4 separate regions of the Homo sapiens genome follow, and all the other regions are linked to region 1. Evidence: fine-mapped expression QTL. A gene starts in region 1. Each other region holds a variant in brackets. All regions are shown on one strand. Distances are between the middles of the regions.

Region 1 (2,683 bases):
TGCCCTCCCCGACCTCGCCCCGCCCGCGCGGACGCCCCCGGCCCCACGCGGGGACCACCCCGGGACGCCGGCCGGAGCCCGCGCGCCCCCGGGCAACCTGAGTGCACCTGCGCCGCGAGGGCACCTGAGCGCTCCCGGCCACGCCCCTGCCACGCCCCCGGCCCCCACGTGCCGCCCTCACGGGGCCCCGCCCCCTCGCGGTTCGGCCGCAAGCCCCGCCTCTCAACCTTCCCGCCCCTCAACCTCCCCGCCCTATGCCCCAGATCGGGCCCCGCCCCTTTACGCCTTAGGCCCCGCCCTCACACCGCCCGCCCCCACACCCCGCCTCCACTGGACTCAGGCTCCGCCCCTTAATGCCTCGCCCCAAAGCCCCGCCCCAGGAGCCCGCCCTGGTCCAGGCCCCGCCCCGTCCCGAGCGCAGCCTGCGACCGATGGAGCAGGAGGCGCGGGTGCTGAGAGCTGCGGGCGGCTTTGGCCGGGCCCGGCGCCTGCTGGCCTCCGCCTCGTGGGTACCCTGCATAGTGCTGGGGCTGGTGCTGAGCTCCGAGGAGCTGCTTACCGCGCAGCCCGCGCCCCACTGCCGACCGGACCCCACGCTGTTGCCCCCAGCGCTGCGCGCCCTGCGCGGACCCGCGCTGCTGGACGCCGCCATCCCGCGCCTGGGGCCCACGCGAGCCGCGAGCCCCTGCCTGCTCCTGCGCTACCCCGATCCCGCGCCCTGCACCCGCCCCGGGCCCGCGCCCCGCGCCCGCACGCAACGGCACCCGGCCCTGCACACGCGGCTGGCTCTACGCGCTGCCCGGCGCCGGCCTCCTGCAAAGCCCGGTCACCCAGGTGCGCCCCCGTCCCTGCTGCCCCGCAGCCCTCCCCGCCCCCAGCCCGCCGAGGCCCTGGGTGTCCTTTCTCCATCCTACCTGGCGCCTCTGACCCGGGCCCCCCGGCCGTCCTCCTGGGCTTCCTGCTCCGGGGCGGCCGCCGGCCCGACGGTGCCGCAGACGGGCGCGCACGGGCCGGACCCGCGGAGAGGGGCCGGGCGGGGGCTGAATCTGGGCCTGGGAGCTGCCAGGCGCGGGGCGGCCTGGGGCGCTGGAGGATTGGAGCCGAAGGCGCCGGTGGGGGAGCAGGGCCTGGAATTTGCTTCAGGACCACCAGCGTCTTCAGCAGACCGTGGCTTTGGGCTGGCTTTCCAAGGCAGAGTCTCTGCTTGGAGGGACTGACGTGGTCAGCACAGACTGGGGAAGGTGGGCTTCCCATCAGTGAGGTGCGCAGAGGCTGGGCTAGAGACTGCATTGCCTGAAGGGAAACCTTGACGATCTGCGTGAGAAGAGATGGGGAGGCGGGCGGCAGGGACCTCCAGGCCCCTTTCATGCCTTTCCGCGCTGGGGCTGAGACCTGCACACCCCTGAGGCAGCCTTTACCCCGAGGCCCCCATCCCCCATCCTGGGAGGACTGGCCCCAGTGTGGAAACTGGAACGGGGTTGCCACATCTTCACAAGGGCTGCCTGGGGCCCTGGAACCCGCCGGGCTTCTCTCTCCACCCTGCTCCCTCCCACCTCCCACCTGCCCTCCTCCTGTTTGGTGCCTGGATCCAGGAATGCCCCATCAGCTTTCCCAAAACGTCAGGTTTGAAAGTAAAATCTCGGGCATAGCACGGCCCCCAGCAGTAGATTAAGCTTGCCAAGAAGACCCAGGAACCGGAAGGGGTGGGGGGAGGCGCAGAGCTGAGGTCAAGGGTCAAGGGCCTCACCGGGAAATGCCGCTGAGCACAGCTCTCCAGCCGCTGCCCGAGTCCCTCTTGAAATGGGCAGGGCAGGGAGGGCGTGGGTACCAGCGCAGGTGCTGGGGTTCATTTCTTAGGCCTGTGTCATGGCTATGACCCTTGGCCGGCTGGGGTGGGGGCTGTGTCTATGACGCCACCAAGGCCCTGGGTGTCCCCGGGGTCCCTCGGAATAGGAGGTGGAAACGGGTCGGACAAGAGCTGGCCGTGGGGGAAGAGCAATGGTGTGCGGAGGTGGGGGAGGCCCTATCTAGGGACAAGCAGAAAACTTAGGGTGGGCAGATCCCCCCGACCCCTGTGCAGGGGCTGCCGGAGACCAGAGAGGCTGCTGTGTGACCTGGACCAAGCCCCTTGCCCTCTCATGCCTCAGTTTCCCCTTCTCTCCACGGAGGGATTGAGCAGGACATGGAGGGCCCCTTCCAGTAGCCATTCTGGGACTCCCTGCACCTGTCCCCAGGGGAGGGTCCTGAGCTGGCCTCCACGTGGCTGCTGTTCCCCATAGTGGAACCTTGTGTGTGGAGACGGCTGGAAGGTCCCGCTGGAGCAGGTGAGCCACCTCCTGGGCTGGCTGCTGGGCTGTGTCATCCTGGGAGCAGGCTGTGACCGGTGAGGCCCCTTCCCTTTTCCTGCTGCCCAGCAGCCCTCCCCTCCGCCCACTCTCAGGGTTCAGCTAGACCTGGTGCTGCCAGGATGAAGGTTGGACCCTGGGTTATCCTGACCCTGTCCAAGCATGTCCCCCGCTGCCCACCAGGTTTGGACGCCGGGCAGTTTTTGTGGCCTCCCTGGTGCTGACCACAGGCCTGGGGGCCAGTGAGGCCCTGGCTGCCAGCTTCCCTACCCTGCTGGTCCTGCGCCTACTCCACGGGGGCACATTGGCAGGGGCCCTCCTCGCCCTGTATCTGGCTC
Region 2 (2,683 bases), 28 kb before region 1:
CTAACCAAGCAGAGCCTACGCTGCTCACAGAATCACATCTGGATCCTCAAGACTAACCAACCAGAGCCTACGCTGCTCACAGAATCACATCTGGATCCTCAAGACTAACCAACCAGAGCCTATGCTGCTCACAGAATCACATCTGGATCCTCAAGACTAACCAACCAGAGCCTACGCTGCTCACACAGAATCACATCTGCATCCTCAAGACTAACCAACCAGAGCCTACACTGCTCACAGAATCACATCTGGATCCTCAAGACTAACCAACCAGAGCCTACAGTGCTCACACAAGATCACATCTGGATCCTGAAGACTAACCAACCAGAGCTTACACTGCTCACAGAATCACATCTGGATCCTCAAGACTAACCAACCAGAGCCTACGCTGCTCAAAGAATCACATCTGGATCCTCAAGACTAACCAACCAGAGCCTACACTGCTCACACAGGATCACATCTGAGTCCTCAAGGCCTACTGTTAGCCAGGCTGCGACGTGGACACTGTAGCAACCAGACTGGAGGATTTCTACAGGGAACAGAGTCCTCACTCCAAGAATGATCAGTGCAGCATCATAAAGATTCAAAATACGTCTACAGAACCCCCAGAAAGACATGTCTCAAGTTAGCCCACAAGGTTTTAGAACACAGGGAAGCGACTGCTATCTTCCATACATTCACAACACTTCAAGTGTCAATCACCACGTTTACTAAAGGGTGAGGAAAGATGTAATGTAAAAAATGACTTCCCAACAATTCTCACCCTCCTAAGGTTTTTCTTCATTGTGAGATCACAAGGGATCATCAAAGTACTGAGCAGAACAGCAACAATGCTGCTGCATATCACACATCAATAGAGTTCTCTCTACTGGATACCATCCATATTCAGCAAGACCTTAGAGAACACTGAGGGCTTTCTCTGTGTCTGCTGCATAGGGCTCCAGGGTGAGTTCCTGCCTGCCGGGTTGTGATGAGATGCTGATTGCCTAGCCACATTCCTCAAGTCATGGACATCTGGAGAACGAGAGGTCTTTCATGTCTTCAACGTGAATGAGTGTAGCTGACAGCTTCCCCACATTCTTTACATTAGAAAGGTTTCTCATCAGTGTGAATTTGAGTGTGATGGTTAAGGCATGAGGAATTCTTAAAAGATTTTCCACAGTCCTTACATACAAAAACCTGCTCTTCAGTGTAAGTTTTTAAATGTTCTTTTAGTAGATAAAACCTATTGTATGCTTTCCCACATTCCTTACATTTATAGGGTTTCTGCCCAGTGTGAATTCTTCCATGTTTATGCAGGTGAGAGGAGGCACGGAAGGCTTTCCCACACTCGTTACATATGTAAGGTTTCTCTCCTGTGTGAGTCCTTCTGTGTTCGATAAGGTGTGAGGAGGAAGCAAAGGCTTTCCCACACTCCTTACATATGTAGGGTTTCTCACCGGTGTGGGTTCTTATGTGCAC[G/A]ATAAGGTGTGAGGATGTGGTGAAGGCCTTTCCGCATACTTTACATTCATAAGGTTTCTCTCCAGTGTGAGTTCGTATGTGCTCGGTTAGGCTCGAAGAAACAGTGAATGTTTTCCCACAGTCCTTACATTCATAAGGTTTTATTCCAGTGTGAATCTGAATGTGCTTATTCAGGCACGAGGAATTTCTGAAGGATTTCCTGCATACCGTACATATAAAGGGCTTCTCCTCTGTGTGAGTTTTCACATGCTCATTCAGTAGATAAACCCTATTGTAGGCTTTCCCACAGTCCTTACATTCATAGGGCTTCTCCCCGGTGTGTGTCCGCATGTGTTTAGTGAGGCCTGAGCGCCCTGTGAAGGCTTTGCCACACTGCTTACATTCGTAGGGTTTCTCTCCGGTATGGATTCTCGCGTGCTCAGTCAGGCTTGAAGAAACAGTGAAGGATTTCCCACAATCTTTACATTCATATGGTTTCTCTCCAGTGTGAGTCCTTACATGCTCAGTAAGGCCCGAGGATGTACAGAAGGCTTTCCCGCAGTCCTTACACGTGTATGGCTTCTCGCCCGTGTGTGTTCGTACGTGTCTAGTAAGGCCACAGCGCACAGTGAAGGCCTTCCCACAGTAGCTGCATGTATAGGGTTTTATTCCAGTGTGAATTCGAACATGATTATTAAGGCATGAGGAATTTCTAAAATATTTTCCGCAAACCACACATGCAAAGGGCTTCTCCCTCGTGTGAGTTTTTCCATGCTCATTCAGTAGATAAAACCCACCGCAGGCTTTCCCACAGTCCTTACATTCATAGGGCTTCTGTCCAGGGTCTGTTTGGACGTGTTTAGAAAGACCTGAGAGTCCAGTGAAGGCTTTTCCGCATTCTTTACATTCACAGGGTTTCTCTGCAGCATGAATTCTTACATGTTGAGTTAGGCTGGAAGAAACAGGGGAGGCTTTTCCACATTCTTCCAATTCACAGGGCTTTTCCCCAGGGTGGACTTGCACGCGACCAGTAAGGTAGGCAGTGTACCTAAAGGCCTTCCCACATTCCCTACATACGTGGGGATTCCTGACGGCATGCATTTCAACAGGTGTGGCGCAGCCCATGGAGTGAGTTAGAGCTTTCCCACACGGCTTCCATTTCCATGTTTCTTCTCCGTTGTGACTTCCCGCACGTGCCTGAAGGTATGACTGATTAAGGAACACTTCCCCACAGCTGCTGTAG
Region 3 (2,683 bases), 33 kb before region 1:
GATTTTTTCTCTCACAGTGTTAGGACACCTGTTTCCCACTCGTTGTGTGAAAACGGAAGTCAGCATGAGGCCCCGATCTGGAGCCTAGTGGGTGCTGGTGCCAAGCTTCTGGGACCCTCCAGGCCTTCAGAATTGTGAACAAAATAAACCTCTTTTCTTCATTAAAAAAAAGAGGCCTTGCAAAAATTTTTATGTCCATAGTGGGAAAAATGACATTACACTCTACAGATACGGTCAACAAAAATCAACTCCAAATGGATTAAGCAACTTGGGATAAAACATAGAAACTGTGGAAGCCAAAATAGTACAGCATATTTAAGGCCTTAGGAGAAAAGAAATTTCTGATGAAGATAAAGGAAAGGTTGTATAAATTTGAGTATGCCAAAATTAAGAAATATTTTTCCTTTTTTTTTGAGACAGAGTCTCACTCTGTTGCCAGGCTGGAGTGCAGTGGCGCGATCTCGGTTCACTGCAATCTGTGCTTCCCATCTTCAAGCAATTCTCCTGCCTCAGCCTCCCAAGGAGCTGGGATTACAGGCGTGCACCACCACATCTAGCCAATTTTTCTATTTTTAGTAGAGATGGCGTTTCACCATGTTGGCCAGGATGGTCTTGATCTCCTGACCTTGTGATCCACCCACCTCGGCCTCCCAAAGTGTTGGGATTACAGGCCTGAGCCACCACACCTGGCACAATCTTTTTCCTTAAGGCATCATCACAAAAGTGGAAACAGGTGAAGTGGAAACCACTGCAATCTTCTAAGTCACAAGTGGTGACTCACCTCACAACAGCCTCACTATTTCTAAAAAAGAACAAAGATCAAACAAACCAGGAAAAAACAAGACCAGGTACTTCATCCAAAAAGGAAAATAGCCAGCGTAAGCAAAACCATGTTCATACTATCAGTAATGAAGAGAAGTGCAAACCAACACCCCAAGGAGATGCTGTTTCACAACCACTTTGGAAAAAACGTCACTCCCTAAGAAGGTTGAACGAGTAGAGAGAAAGAATAAAACTGCCCAGGAGTCAACATGGCAGTTCCTACAGATAGTTCAAGAATCCCTGGGCTGGGTAAGACCTTGTCACAGACATGTGCTTAGGTAGAGAGACTATGAGGAAAACCACACCACTGGTGGGGCCTAGACGCGGACTCGTCAAGGTGAGTGAGTGACACACACAGGTTCCTGACATGGAAAGTTTATCACTCACAGTGTCAAGAGAAGGCGGCACATCACTCCAGGCAGGGCCCAAGGGGAGCTGCAGAGCTGGGCAGGAGGCAGAAGTCAGAGCCAGGGGAGGCAGAGGCCACA[G/A]GGTTTTCACAGGAAAGGCAGGACAGGGCAGGATGAAGTCTGGGGCTGGCTAGTCTGCATACTTCCAGCAGGCCCAAGGGCATACAGCATGTCCTGCTGTCTAGTGCCTCATCCTGGGCTGACTTCAGGGAGGAGAAATACTGGCTTGGTGTGGTAGTTAGAAAAAGGAAGTGGCCGGAAATAAGTACTTGCAACAGTTGAGTTGCATACGCAGTGCGAGCTGAGTTGCATACGCAGTGCGAGTTGAGTTGCATACGCAGTGCGAGTTGAGTTGCATATGCAGTGCGAGTTGAGTTGCATACGCAGTGAGTTGAGTTGCATATGCAGTAAGTTGATTTGCATACGCAGTGCGAGTTGAATTGCATATGCAGAGCGAGCTGAGTTGCATACAGTGTGAGTTGAGTTGCATATGCAGTATGAGTTGAGTTGCGTTGCATATGCAGTGCGAGCTGAGTTGCATATGCAGTGAGTTGATTTGCATACGCAGTGCGAGTTGAGTTGCATACACAGAGCAAGCTGAGTTGCATACGCAGTGTGAGTTGAGTTGCACACGCAGTGCGAGTTGAGTTGCACACGCAGTGCGAGTTGAGTTGCATACGCAGTGCGAGTTGAGTTGCATACGCAGTGCGAGTTGAGTTGCATACGCAGTGCGAGTTGCATACGCAGTGCGAGCTGAGTTGCATACGCAGAGCGAGCTGAGTTGCATACGCAGAGCGAGCTGAGTTGCATACGCAGTGCGAGCTGAGTTGCATACGCAGAGCGAGCTGAGTTGCATACGCAGAGCGAGCTGAGTTGCATACGCAGAGCGAGCTGAGTTGCATACGCAGTGCGAGCTGAGTTGCATACGCAGTGCGAGCTGAGTTGCATACGCAGAGCGAGCTGAGTTGCATACGCAGAGCGAGCTGACTTGCATACGCAGTGCGAGCTGAGTTGCATACGCAGTGCGAGCTGAGTTGCATACGCAGAGCGAGCTGAGTTGCATACGCAGTGCGACTTGAGTTGCATACGCAGAGCGAGCTGGGTTGCATACGCAGAGCGAGCTCAGTTGCATACGCAGAGCGAGCTGAGTTGCATAGGCAGTGAGTGGATTCGCATACGCAGTGCGAGTTGAGTTGCATACGCAGTGCGAGTTGAGTTGCATACGCAGTGCGAGTTGATTTGCATACACGGTGTGAGTTGAGTTGCATATACGGTGTGAGTTGAGTTGCATATGCAGTGAGTTGATGTGCATATGCAGTGAGTTGATTTGTATATGCAGTGCATGTTTCCAGCAAGTTGTTTACCATCTTTAGGAATGATCTAGCCTGAGAGGGACGGTCTAGCCCCCACAGCAAGACCCCAGGATGAAAATGTACCCTAACAAAAAAAAAAAA
Region 4 (2,683 bases), 42 kb before region 1:
AGGCACAATCCTGCCCGTCTCCCTGGATACCGCTCCCTGGCTGGCCACCACTTTCACTAACCCATGGAGCCAACCGTGCCCTGACAGCAAGAGGCCAATACTCACAGAACCACCACCGCTGCCCCTCTGTCAGCAGACAGCAGTTACAGAAGACTGACCTTTGTCCATTTCCCTCAAGAACTGGGGTCTTGGCCTCCTGCGGGGGGAAATGTTAGTGTGGGTAGCTAGGGGGTATGAGCAGGGCAGGAGAGGGCTCCCCACCACCACACACACACAACAGGTGTGCTGGCCACCATGAGGTGATGGTCAGGTAGTTGTTAACTGTCTCTAAAGTAATAATTGGTCACAGCCAGCGCCAGGGAAAGACAGCCTCCTAACAGATAGACAACAGCTGAAGCTGGTGATCAGCAGCTTCCCGTTAAGATCTCAGGAGCTGGGTGGGTGGGGAGAAGTAACACAAGACCCCGCATTATGTCACTGTATCAAACCCCAAGTCAGAAGGTCAAACCACACACTGGTCTTTCAAGGTGCCCTCCTAGCCTTCTTCCAGGCGTACTTTCCTTCCTCCTTTAAAGCTTTTTAATAAACTTCACTTCTGCTCTGAAGCGTGCCTCGGTCTCTCCCTCTGCCTTATGCCCCTCGGTTGAATTCTTTCTTCTAAGGAGGCAAGAACTGAGGTTGCTGCAGACCCGAACAGATTCATCACCAGTGACACTCCAGCATCCCCTTGTTCCCCGAGGCCCCCTGTCTGGAGCACCTTCCTTTCCACTGCTGCCTACAGGACTCCTCATCCCTCAACGCCCCAGGTCAACACTGTCTTCTCCTCCTGGAGCCTCCTTGCCACCTCGGCCAGAAGCCCTCCCTCCTGTTGACTATAGCACCTGCTCTCCCCTTCGAGACCCCGCCCCCTGGAAGGGCGTGGGTGTGGCTCAACACCTGCACAGGCCCAGCGCATGGTCAGGAAGGTCCTGGAGGGAGGGTGGAGGGGGCTGGAGGCACGAGGACCCTTTCTTTTGAGCAGGCAGGGTGGGGAGTGGGGGTTGCTGACCAGCCCAGAGCTGGGCTGGGGAGCCCGTTTCTCTCTGTGGTGGGAGCAGGCCTGGTGCCTCTGCTCTCCTGTCGACGGTGGGTGGCTGCGCAGGTGCAGGCAGCATCTGTGCCCTTGGCCCGCTTGGAACTTTTGTTAAAGATTAGACGTTTGAGGCCGGGCACAGCGGCTCACGCCTGTAATCCCAGCACTTTGGGAGGCC[A/G]AGGTGGGCAGATCACAAGGTCAGGAGATCGAGACCATCCTGGCTAACACGGTGAAACCCCGTCTCTTCTAAAAATACAAAAAAAATTAGCCGGGCGTGGTGGCGGGTGCCTGTAGTCCCAGCTACTCGGGAGGCTGAGGCAGGAGAATGGCGTGAACCCGGGAGGCAGAGCTTGCAGGGAGCCGAGATCGCGCCACTGCACTCCAGCCTGGGCGACAGAGCGAGACTCCGTCTCAAAAAAAAAAAAATTAGACGTTTGAATCTAATAATATAACTCTGAAAGTCAGACTCTCCCCATTCCCCAGGGTTTGCTGGGTTTTGGTTTTGTTGACTGTTGTGTTTTTTGTTGTTGTGGGCTGCCTCTGTGCTGATGCTCAGCCTGAGGTGTCAACTGAAGACATTCTCACGTCTTTCCTGATCATCTATCTATATTTATATATATAACATATATAAATATATAGTAAATATATATGTATATATACACACACACACATACGTGTGTGTGTGTGTATATATATATATATATATTTTTTTTTTTTTTTTTTTTGAGACAGAGTCTAGCTCTGTCACCCAGGCTGGAGTGCAGTGGGGCGATCTCAGCTCACTGCAAGCTCCGCCTCCCGGGTTCACGCCATTCTCCTGCCTCAGCCTCCAGAATACCTGGAAGCACAGGCGTGAGCCACCACATCCGGCTAATTTTTTAAACTTTTTTTCGTAGAGACACGGTCTCCCTGTTTCCCAGGCTGGTCTCAAACTCCTGGACTCTAGCGATCCCCCCAGCTTGAGCTCCCAAATTGCTGGGATTCCCGTCGTGAGCCACCATGTCCAGTCTAACTGTCTTTTAAAGAAGTTTAAAAATTACTCTCTAGCTGCGCAAGGTGGTTGGTGCCTGTAATCCCAGCAGTGTGGGAGGCTCTGGTGGGAGGACCACTCGAGCCCAGGAGGCTGAGGCTGCAGTGAGCCACGATAGCGGCACTGCACTGCAGCCTGGGCGACAGAGCGAGATCCTGACTCAAAAAAAAAAAAAAAAAGAAAAGAAAAGAAAAAGAAAAGAAAAAAGAAGAAAACACTTAAAGGATGACATCATTTTCGGGCGTTTCGTCCTTTGGGATTTGCCGTTTTCAGGATTTCACACCGTAGGGATGTTGATCTCTTGTGACTTCAACACTCCGGGTTCTGCTCTTCAAGACTCTGGCTGAGGTCTGTTTCAAACAGAGCCCAAACACGCAGATCTGTCGTCATCTAGGTCCCGTCTGCCCTGTGTGCCCTGTGAAATGGTGCCAAACATCCGCTAGCCACAGAAAAACCGACACCTGAGAGCTGTCGGTCCCCCAGCCCCGGCTGCCCTTCAGACGGTACCGACCGCGGCTCCCGCCGGGCTGCTGAGTGTGTCACTGTCGCCCAGCACACGAGCCCCTCTCCGATCCCCCGAG

The links. PIP is the estimated chance that this variant, and not a neighbour inherited with it, causes the effect.
Region 2: its variant is fine-mapped to the expression of SLC22A31 in caudate (GTEx, PIP 0.96).
Region 3: its variant is fine-mapped to the expression of SLC22A31 in fibroblasts (GTEx, PIP above 0.99).
Region 4: its variant is fine-mapped to the expression of SLC22A31 in whole blood (INTERVAL, PIP 0.99).

Annotation. Positions count from the first base shown.
Region 1 is chr16:89,199,413-89,202,095 of GRCh38, reverse strand. SLC22A31 (solute carrier family 22 member 31) reads left to right here and starts at 1,559. Exons shown (of 9, transcript NM_001384763.1): 1 at 1,559-1,618; 2 at 2,280-2,383; 3 at 2,529-2,683. The coding sequence starts at 1,595. RefSeq lists a silencer at 403-492 and enhancers at 785-1,407, 2,656-2,683.
Region 2 is chr16:89,226,966-89,229,648 of GRCh38, reverse strand. It overlaps ZNF778 (zinc finger protein 778), which reads right to left. Exons shown (of 7, transcript NM_001201407.2): 7 at 1-2,683. The coding sequence ends at 1,087. Among named protein-coding and RNA genes, the nearest start is that of ZNF778, 11 kb to the right of the region's middle. The variant G/A (reference allele first, on the strand shown) is at 1,462.
Region 3 is chr16:89,232,645-89,235,327 of GRCh38, reverse strand. It overlaps ZNF778 (zinc finger protein 778), which reads right to left. Exons shown (of 7, transcript NM_001201407.2): 7 at 1-2,683. Among named protein-coding and RNA genes, the nearest start is that of ZNF778, 16 kb to the right of the region's middle. The variant G/A (reference allele first, on the strand shown) is at 1,311.
Region 4 is chr16:89,241,300-89,243,982 of GRCh38, reverse strand. No RefSeq gene overlaps it. Among named protein-coding and RNA genes, the nearest start is that of ZNF778, 25 kb to the right of the region's middle. RefSeq lists an enhancer at 1,842-2,358. The variant A/G (reference allele first, on the strand shown) is at 1,251.